Regions from separate parts of the Homo sapiens genome. Here region 2 is linked to region 1. Evidence: fine-mapped QTL for protein levels in blood plasma. A gene starts in region 1. The other region holds a variant in brackets. All regions are shown on one strand. Distances are between the middles of the regions.

Region 1 (5,382 bases):
AAGGACTGCATTCATTTATGAGGCAGTTCCATAGCGCTGACTCAAAAGGATGGCATGACTCCAAGCCTCCAGTATATGTTACATACCAAAAAGGAAAAAGAAATATGAGGCTATGTCATATGTTTGAGCTTGCGGATATTCCCAAGAAAAAGCTTCCAGTTACTTAGAGCTTGCATCTTTTGGGGGATTCCATAATAAATTCTATTATAAACCCAGATTTTTTACAAAGAGCAAATATAAATTTGGTAAGTTAAAGCTTCAAGTGCTTTTTGAAAACTGTCTTGGAAACCAGGAACTAGGTTTGTACATATTTTAATTATATATGCTTTCTTTTTTACTTAAAAGGTTGAAAACCAAATCATTCTTAAATGTAAAAGGCTACATTCTCCTATCGGCACAAACACAAACATATCAAATTCAAATATTTTGCTGGCATCTGAAAACGAGATTAGTATGGACCTAAGTTCTTACTACACAAATGATTTTACAGTGACTCACCATGAGTAAGCTTTCAAAGTCATTTTCTTTAGAATGCCAGTCTTTGTTTAAAAAAAAATTCTAAATCTGTTCCTCATAATTACTACCTTAGAAAATCAGAAGAGGTTTCATACCTGATTCCGCTTATTTTTTACAATGACACAGTTACCTTTGTCAGTTTAAAAAAAAAAAAAAAGTTTACTGAAAGTTAGCTGTTTGGAAATTATACTGCATTTCCTCATTGAGACAATGTTATAAAAGGTAGTAAAAATCCTATAAAACCTAATTAACTCCTAATGTAACTGACGTGTGCCTGGTACCTCAAATTCCTCTTTCGATCCTGGAAAATGTTTCAGTGCACGTTTTAAACACCTTATACTGCAAAAATGTGGTCAGCTGATTTTGTATGAACGTTCCCCGAGAGAAACAAGAGTTGACTCACTGCACACTATTACAAAAGCCTCTTAACCGGTGTCCCAGCCTCTAGTCTCTCCCTCCTAGATTCTATCCTCCACCGTGTTGCCCGTTTTCTTAACAGAAAATGAGATTAGGTCGCACCCCTACTTAAAACCTCCACTGCCCAAAGAACTTCCTACGGGGTGAAGTCCAAACCCCTTAGTTCAGCATAGAAGACTCTTCCCAACTGGTAACAACCTACCTTAGTTTGATCTTCCATCCCTCCCTTTTATAGTCTGCATGAAGACATATTGACATTTTTATCATTTCCTAAAAAGTCATGTTCTTTCATACGCCCCCCGCCCCACCATACTCTTGCAAAAACTTTCCTCTGCTTAGAATGTATCTACTATTCTACTTGAAAAATCACCGATGTAGCCCAGTTCAAATATTATTTTCTCTAAAAATCTTCCCCAACATCTCTCAGATGCGCTTAGCATATTTGGTCACCTTCTGCCCCTCTACAATCAACTGTGTGGTGTTTATAGGAGTTCCATAAACGGTGGCTAAACTTTGAAGGGGCATACACATGCCGAAGTGAGGAGCTGGCCAAAACCACAGTTAAAGACCATCAGGATATTCCACTCACCTAATGCAGGTCGGTAATGACTGACAATTTATATTAACATTTAAAAATACAGTCTTATTTACATTTACAAACACAAAAAAAAATCACAGATTAATAAAACTCCGGATGTATAATCGTCTTCACCTTAAACATCGGTGAGTGTTAACCATCTAGAATACCACCGGAAAAGTAGTTTTAACCAGAAGAAATTTGGCAACTTCCCATTCAAAACATTGTCAGAGTTTCAACATTTCCACACTGGGGCAAATTTACTTAATTTCAAATAAAGCAGCCAAAGATAAGAAAAACAAGTAATTAGTTTCCTGAAGGTCAACAGTCCTGCGTTGAAATCTTCTATCATCACCTTTGAATAACTTTCAATCAATGATTTAGTAAAAACTCCCATTCTCCATCATCCTCTGTCGCTGATAGAGAAAATACAGCCATGCAAACAATTATATCATACAAAATCCAAAATAAACAACTTGTTTCCAGAAAGACGCCAGCGTGCTGACAATCTGCTTCCACTATGTTTGGGCATCTCCAATACAAGTATCTTACATAGTCAAGGGCAGTTTCACAATTCAAAAACGATTTCACACAAATGATTTAATTCCTACAATAATCCTGTGAGTTCAAAAGAGCAGGGATTATCTGTCCGGATTTAACACAGTACGAACCCAATAAAAACACAGATTTTTTAAGAATGGTTTGGCTATAGAAAGGTAGCACATCGTTTACAAAATATTCTTACTACAAAAATGACCCAAGAGAAATGAGCGTCCTCCCACCCACCTTTATTCCACCATTAAATTTAGCTGTGTTGACCCAAGGATACCATGAACGTCAAAATTTCAAATTATAACCTGCAGCAAAAGTTTCATCTCTCAGTCTCTTTCCAAGCGACATTAACTCCACGAGCGAGAGCCAGCTCCCTCCCTGCAGGCGTTTGGAGGACTGAACGCCCGCGGGCGCGCCCAGCCTGCAGGGCTCCGGCCCGCCGAGGTCAGCGCCCGCCCCAGAGCGGGTTTCGGGGCGTCTGGGGGACCCGGGGTCGCGCGAGGCGGCGAGGGATGGGGGGACGCTGGGAACGGCTCCATCGAACAGGACACGGAGGAAGCGGTGCCGGGCAGAGGACCCGGGCCAAGAAGGGCTTGGGGCGCCAAACCCCGCGCCTCGGGTGCGACCCCGGTCCGCACACACCTGGAGCGGCCGCGCCCCCCGACCCCGGGTCCGATCCCCAGGCCGGGCCCCTCCACTCCCAGGCACCACAGGTTCACTCCGAGCGCCCCGTCCCTAGGAAGCAGCCGTCCCAACCGACCCGGGGCGCGGACACCCACCTGGCCGCGCCGCACCGAGGACTGGGCCCACCAGGCCAAGCAACAGCAACCACCGGACACGAAGGGTCCCCGAGGGAAAGCGCGCGCCAGACCCCATCTCGGCCGATTCCGCAGGTTCCTCTCAGCACTCGGTCGCCTCCACCTCCGCCTCTTCCATCATTTTCCAACCCTGCCGGGGCCCCAAGTCTGGCCGGGAAGCGCGCGCGCCCGACGAGCACGCGCGCCCGACGAGCACGCGCGCGGCACTGACGCAACTGAGCCCTCGGTCCGAGCTCGCTCCCGACATCGCCTAGCTGCGCTGACGTAGGGAAAAATCCAGTCCCCGGCGCGAGAATAGGATTTCTAAACCGGCGGTGGCAACCAGCACTAGTCGGCCCGCCAGTCATATCCGCCCCGCCCCGTCGGCTGCCGGGCACGCCCACCTAGGGGGGTCGACGGATCCGATTGGAGAACGCATTCGGCGCAAAAGAAGGAGGAGCATGAGACCCAGAAGAGGAATCGAGAAGCAGAAGCAGAGGGCGGAGTAGCCCCGCCCGTCTGCTCGACCTTTTCTAGTTGGTTGGCGGAGGTGCGCGGAGCGTCGAGCTGCGCGTCCATTGGCTGTTTGGCGGGGCTACGCGGGCGGGGCTACGCGGAAAGGCCTGACCACGCAGTTCTTGGGTCTGTGCTGCTGGCCTGGGGTTGTGGTTGAGGCCGGGTCTCCGCTCCTGTGCCCGGGAAGATGGTGCTAGGTGGTTGCCCGGTTAGTTACTTACTTCTGTGCGGCCAGGCGGCTTTGCTGCTGGGGAATTTACTTCTGCTGCATTGTGTGTCTCGGAGCCACTCGCAAAATGCGACCGCTGAGCCTGAGCTCACATCCGCTGGCGCCGCCCAGCCGGAGGGCCCCGGGGGTGCTGCGAGCTGGGAATATGGCGACCCCCACTCTCCGGTCATCCTCTGCTCTTACCTGTAAGCTACCAGTGGTCGAGGCGGGTGGACGTGGAGGGTGTGCCAGGAATATATGGGTGTTAAGGGAAGGCAGGGTTGGGGGGACGCTGCATTTTTTCAGACCCTGCCTCTCTGAGGTCGTTCCGGAGGCAAATATCATGAACCAGGTTTCTCACAGCCCGTGCAGAGAAAACTCTTGTGTGTCAGTGACAGAGGCTTTGAGATCCCCAAAGAGGAAAACTGGGTAGGAGTAACATCATATAGCCTCTGGAAGAAGGGCGTAAGGTTGTGCTTTCTTTGCCCTGCGCCCTTTAGCCCAAGGAGAGTATTAGTCGGTCGATTCGGTGCCAGTACTGAGTAAGGCATAAATGGAGTAAATGACTTGTCTCTGCCTACAAGGCATCTTTTAAAAAAGCAATCAATATTCTTACCGTTGCAGAATCACGCCATTTTTTAACATCTCTTTTTGATCAAACAAGAAAAGGCATTTGGGAAATGCAAAGAGGACTGAGAATACTTTGGCTTAAATTTTGCCCCCAGAATCTTGTTGTTTGCCTACTGAAGAGATGAAACCATGGCAGAAGTAGAATCCTTATAGAAACAGGACCAGAAACACCTCCCTTCTCCAACAAAAGGTTCATTTTGGTGGCTGTCCGTTTGACCTGCTGTGCTTCAGTTTAATTGGCTTGGAAAGGGGTCAGCAGGGTGAAACCGAACCCCAGAAAACTTGATGAAGAAATGTCTTTTGCCCGTTTTGATTACGTGCATGCAAACAGCGATTTGCAAAGACCGTATGATGATGATCATGATCTTACTGGTGAATTACAGACCTGATGAATTTATAGAATGTGAAGACCCAGTGGATCATGTTGGAAATGCAACTGCATCCCAGGAACTTGGTTATGGTTGTCTCAAGGTGAGTTTTTGTTTTGTCGTAAGAGCAAACCCTTCGATAACGAAATAGGAATGTCTGAATGCTATTACATAAAAGTATAAGAGGTACAAAGTTTTTTGAAGAATTTCCTCAGAAAGACCGTTACTGGAAATTTCCAGTATGGCCAGGGTCAGTGACTGAACAAGATATTTGGTTTCCTTATGAAGGAGCAATCTCTGTGCTAAAACCACCCAGGTGCAAAGACCAACCTGTCTTTGGTTCCTTTGGCCACTGACAGATTTTGAAACTAAAATGTCACCCCTGACTCTCCTTCAAGGCATGAACCTTTCCTGAAAGAGCAAAAGGAAGTCTGTGCACTTTGCAACACTGGTGATGGATTGGGCAGTATCTTTGTTACACATGCATTTGGGGCAGAGCTTTTCTTGCCAATGACATTTCTTTTCTCCAGGCAAACAGGTTCCACCATGTCCGTAGGAGACAGATAGAGTCTACCGGTATATGTCTTTGTAGGACATTAAAGCGTTCCAGCGGAAGCCATTGGTTAACAGTGGCTTCTTGGAATGGAAAAACGCTATTAAGGTTTATTAGTAATATCCCTAAAGCTGAGTGTACAGTTCCTAATCAATCTCTCAAAATAACCAATGAAGTTCATGTATCTCCTCCCCACCATGGACTCGCCATCCTATTATGCCACATAATGCAAGTCAAGATTTGGTCAG
Region 2 (5,382 bases), 210 kb before region 1:
TTATTATGCATAGCATGCCTGTATCAAAATATCTCATGTAACCCATAAATATATGGTAGATGTATGTGCAATAGATGTATGTATAAATATACACATCTACTACCCACAAAAATTAGAAATTTTTTAAAAAGATATAGACAAAAGAAAAGAAAAGTTGGTTAAGGGATCTAAAATACAGGTAAATGGAAGGGATTAGTGCTAGCACTCAATAGTACAGTAGGGAAATTATAGTTAATAATTTATTGTATACTTCAAAATAGCTAGAAGGGAAGAATTATAATATTCCCAGCACAAATAAAATATAAATATATGAGGTGGTACATACTCAAATTACCCTGATTTGATCATTACGCATTCTATACAGGTATCAAAATATAACATGTACCCCCAAAATGTATACAACTATTATATATCAAAAAATTGCTTAAAAAGTAAATTTTAAATGTTTTCTCCACAAAAAAAATAATAAGTATGTGAGGTGATGGATTTGTTAATAACCTTGACTTAATCATTACAGAAAGTAAATGTATATCCAAACTGCACTGTATCCCAGAAATATACACAATTATTATTTGTCCATTGAAAATAATTGTTTTTAAAAAATCGCCAGTAAGAGCATGCTCAACATCATTAAAGTAATCAAGAAAATGCAAATTTAAACCACTACAAAACCACTGGAATAGCTAAAATTTAAGAAGTGGATAATAACAAATTCTAGTGCAGATATGAAGGAACTCAAAGTTTCATATGCTGCTGACAGGAGTGTAAAAAGATACAACCATTTTGGAAAATATTTTGGCAATTTCTTATAAACATACACATATCATATGACCTAGAAGTTGTACTTCTACAAATTAAGAATAATGGACCAATAGTTTAACAACTTAAATGTCCATTAGCAGGTGAATGGTTAAAACAGATTGTGATATATCCACACAATTAAATATTACTCAAAATTAAAAGGGAGAAACTATTGTGATATGAAATAAATGGATGAATCTCAAAAACACTATATTGAAAGGAAAAAGCCAGACATAAAAAAATATGTGCTGTCTCATTTCATTTATATGACTTTCTAGACCAGGCAAAGGTAACAGAATCAGAAATTATCTGGAGACAGGTGGAGGTAGAAATGACTGCAAATATGAATAAGCTTTTGGGGATGATGAAAATATACATCTTAATTTTACCAATAGTTATATACATTTGTTGAAACTCATCAACCCGTACACTTAAAATGGGTGCATTTTATTGTATGTGGATTATACCCCAATAAGATTGATTTTTTTAAAAAAAATCAAGAACCAGGTGTGGTAGCTCATGCCTGCAATCCCAGCACTTTGGGAGGCCGAGGCAGGTGGATTACTTGAGGTCAGGAGTTTGAGACCAGCCTGACCAACGTGATGAAACCGTCTCTACTAAAAATACAAACTTAGCCAGGCATGATGGCAGGCACCTGTAATCCCAGCTACTTGGGAGGCTGAGGCAGGAGAACCGCTTGAACCCAGGAGGCGGAGGTTGAAGTGAGCCGAGATTGCTCCATTGCACTCCAGCCTGGGCAACAAGAGCAAAACTCCATCTCAAAAAATAAATTAATTAAAATAAAATAAAAAATAAAGAAAGATGACTTGTTCTACCAAATAGTTAAACATAATACAAAAACACAGTAATTAAAATAATGTGATATGGTTCAAGTAATTCAGACCTATGGATGTAACAGACCCTAATAAATTTCTGTCTACCTTGTAACCAAGGAAATTTATAACATTTGCAGTACTGCTACAAATACTGAATTATATAAAAGCATTAAACCCTAGGCCTTTTGAATTCATTATATTTTCAGGGTTTCCCTATCAAGTGAATAATCAAAATATCTAGTGTTCATATTGATATTGATACAGATTCCTGTACTACTGATTCCATTGTGAAGTAATAACCTAAAGGACACATTGGGCTGCTTAATCAATCTTCATTAAGACATCTGTAAAATGTCCAAAGATTAAGCAGAGATTTGTAAAGAACCCTATATATTTAGTCTGAAACTCAAAAGCTTATTCTAGACTCTCCTGTTTCCCATTACCAATAATTTTTTGCAGTACATTATAAACTTGTTCAAAATTCTTCAACCTACAAAATCTAAACAGTATTTTCTTGTATGTATTTCGACCCAACTTCACTTACTGTCAACATTCTGCATGGTACTCATTCACATTTGAGATATATGACATTTATGAAAAAGATAAATTAAAACAATAAATTTATTAATCAATTTTCCTAGTTATCATACTTACAGCCTCAGTACCACAATCACAGATTTCATTTCCCTCCAATCTGCCATTGCCACAGACTGGTTTCGGAGATTTTTTTTGCATTTGTGGCTTATTCTGAAGACATTTGACACCCACATTTGAAATGAAATTTTGAAAGCTCCTCAAACTGCAACTGCTAAA[A/T]GTCTTCACACCATTGGATTGCCTAAAGATGAATCCATATAATGTCATTGGCAGTATACTTCTGGAAACACATTTCTATATGATATAAATTAATTTCAAAATGTTAAATTCAATTGGCTGTTACAAATGTTTATAATAAGTGCTTAGAGGCCAAAATCATACTTGAGGATGTCATGTGATTTTATTCACTGGAATACATGTTCTTAATAAAACAAAATTAAGTACAATTCAATAGCAACACACACACACACACAGTAATCCAATTTTAAAATAGGCAAAGGATTTGAGCAGATATTATTCCAAATAAAAATCAGCACCCAGATTTGGACAGACATCACTTCAAATAAAAATTAGCACCCAATTAACCACAAAATTTTATTAAACAAATGATAATGTGCTTAGTCCTGAAGATCTCAGAAAAAAAGTGTATATTTATCAAAATTATATATTATTATGTCCATATACCAATAATAAAGAGAATTCATTGACTAGTTCCATAGGAAGTCCATTTTTACTATATTTGTATGTAGTAAACATCTGTAAGGCAAGGAAGAAACTGAGATTTATTGAGTACCTATTATGTGCCAGATTTCATTACTGATTTGGCTGTGCACATTGTCTTGAAAGTGACGATTTAAGATATCAGATGTGGAAGAGGAGGCAGAGTAAGAGCACGGGATAGAACCCTCCAGTGATCATCCCTCTGTAGGGACACTGAAGTGAACAATTATCCATGCAAGAAAACACCTTCACAAGAGCTAAAAGAATGAGGTAAAAGATCACAGTAACTGGTTTTGGCATAACAACAAGAAAAGACACATTGAAGAGCATAGGAATGACAGTTTTGCGTTGCCTACACCATCCCGTCCCCAATCTGAAGCAATGCACATAGAGAGTGAATTTGTCTTTTTAGGAGAGGGAGAAGGAAGTGTGCATGGGACTTTGCCTGAAAAGCCTGTACCAGCCCCACTACCGTAAAACACAGCACCAGGCTGAACCCCATGGTCCCTGATTCCAGGCTGGTGCCCACAGATTTCTAGACCTGCCCCAGCTAAGAAGAAAATTCATCACCCCAGCAGGATAGAGCCAAGCCTTGGCCAGCTTCACCACTGGCTGATGAAAGAAGCTTTAGGCCATGAATAAATATCAGCAGCAGTCAGGTAATAGTGACTGTGGGTGTTAGGTGAGCAAACCCTAACCATTACTGTGCTGGTCTATGAGGCCATGGGCTTCAGGTGTAAGCCAGTATGCTGCCAGTTGCAGTGGCCATGAAAGTGCATGTATCACCTCTCCAGCAACTCCAGACAGTGCAGTATAGAGAGCAACTCCTTCTGCTAGGGGAAGAAAAAGGAAGTGAGCAAGAGACTTTGGGCTTGGAAACCCACAGAACTGTCTCTGATATTCCCCAAGTCCATCAGGGTTGGATGCATAGGAATCTTCAAGAGAGCCACAGCGTAATTGAGCTTAAGGTGCTATCTAGTGCTGAAATGGCAGCAGTGACCATGGTCTTAACTCATCAGTCAGTACTCTTGGAATTTCTGTAAGGTCCTCTGAAGAAGGACCAATACAAACAAGGCCAGACTGTAAAGATGAGAAGAAATACTTAATTATTTAATGCCCAGATACATCCACAAGCATTAATAACATTCAGGAAAATATGATCCCATCAAGTATAATAAATAAGGCACCAGTAACCAAACCTGGAGAAATATGTGTAAACTCTTACACAGAGAATGCAAAATAGATGTTTTGAGGAAGCTCAAATAACATCAAGAAAACACAGAGAAACAATTCAGAAAATTAATTATCAGAGATACTTAACAAAGAGATTGAAATAAGTTTAAAAATCAAGCAGAATTCCTGGAGCAATAATAGATAAACTGAAAAATGTATTAGAGGGTCTCGAAAGCAGAAGTGATCAAACAAAAGGAAGAATTCACGAGCACAAACACAGGCTATTTGAAAATATGTCAAGAAGAAAAAAGAAAAAGTGAATTTAAAAGAACAAATAACACTTATTGGATCAGTGAGATACCAAATGTACAAGTCATTGACCTTCAAAGGGAGTAGAGGAAGAGAAAGGGGGTAGAAAAGTTATTTAAAAGAACAAAGAACAGTTATTGGATCAGTGAGATAGCAAATGTAAGAGTCATTGACCTTCAAAGGGAGTAGAGGAAGAGAAAGGGGGTAGAAAGGTTATTCAAATAAATAATAATGGAAAATTGTCCAAACCTCAATATAAATATCCAGTTACAAGAAGGTCAAAGATCACCAAGAAGAGTCAACCGAAATAAAACTACCTCAACGCATATAATAATCAAACTCTCATAGGTCAAAGACAATAGAGACTCCTAAAAGCAGTAAGAGAAAAGAAGCAAATAACATATGAAGGAGTGCCAGTACATCTGGCAGCAGAATTCTCTATGGAAACCTTAAAGACCAGGAAGGACTGGAATGACATATTCCAAGTCCTGAAGGAAAAAACTTTCAACCAAGAATATTGTACCCAGGAAAACTATCCTTAAAAATGAAGAAGTGATTCAAAACTCTTAGACCAATGAAAGTGGAGGGAATTCATCACCACCAAACCATAAGAAATGCTAAAAGAAGTTTTTCAGTCTGACAGAAAAGAATGCTAATGTGCAACAAGAACACATGTGAAGGTATAAAAGTAAACAAACAAATTTAGAACACTCTAACACTGTAACTATGGTGTGTAAACCATTCATATCTTTGGTATAAAGATTAAAAGCCAAAGATATTGAAAACAATAACTACAACAATTTTTAAGAGATAGGTAATATAAAAATATGTGAATTTAGAGATCAAAAAGTCAAAATTGGGGAGAAGGGAGTTAAAGTGTAGAGTTTTTCAGGTTGTGTTTGTTTCATTCTTTGTGATCAAAAAGTGGGTATTATCAAAAAGACAAAAA

Which allele goes with the higher level. Alleles are on the strand shown, and positions count from the first base shown. The strength of an association depends on the size of the effect and on how common the allele is.
For the plasma level of the protein whose gene starts at base 3,029 in region 1, allele T in region 2 goes with a higher level than allele A (weak association).

Evidence for each region. A credible set is the group of variants that fine-mapping cannot tell apart. PIP is the chance, under the fine-mapping model, that this variant and not a neighbour inherited with it causes the effect. The UK Biobank Pharma Proteomics Project read protein levels with antibody pairs (Olink). The fine-mapping took linkage between variants from a reference panel, not from the people measured, so its PIPs are less certain.
Region 2: its variant is the best candidate, but not a certain one, in a credible set for the plasma level of the ADAM9 protein (UK Biobank, PIP 0.51).

Annotation. Positions count from the first base shown.
Region 1 is chr8:38,994,620-39,000,001 of GRCh38, reverse strand. It overlaps ADAM9 (ADAM metallopeptidase domain 9), which reads right to left and starts at 3,029. Exons shown (of 22, transcript NM_003816.3): 1 at 2,842-3,029. The coding sequence starts at 2,938. It overlaps TM2D2 (TM2 domain containing 2), which reads left to right and starts at 3,493. Exons shown (of 4, transcript NM_078473.3): 1 at 3,493-3,789; 2 at 4,597-4,684. The coding sequence starts at 3,563. RefSeq lists a silencer at 2,393-2,822 and enhancers at 2,833-3,142, 3,153-3,202, 3,263-3,362, 3,523-3,712, 3,321-3,842 and 1 more.
Region 2 is chr8:39,208,234-39,213,615 of GRCh38, reverse strand. It overlaps ADAM32 (ADAM metallopeptidase domain 32), which reads right to left. Exons shown (of 25, transcript NM_145004.7): 12 at 2,292-2,472. Among named protein-coding and RNA genes, the nearest start is that of ADAM32, 100 kb to the right of the region's middle. The variant A/T (reference allele first, on the strand shown) is at 2,451.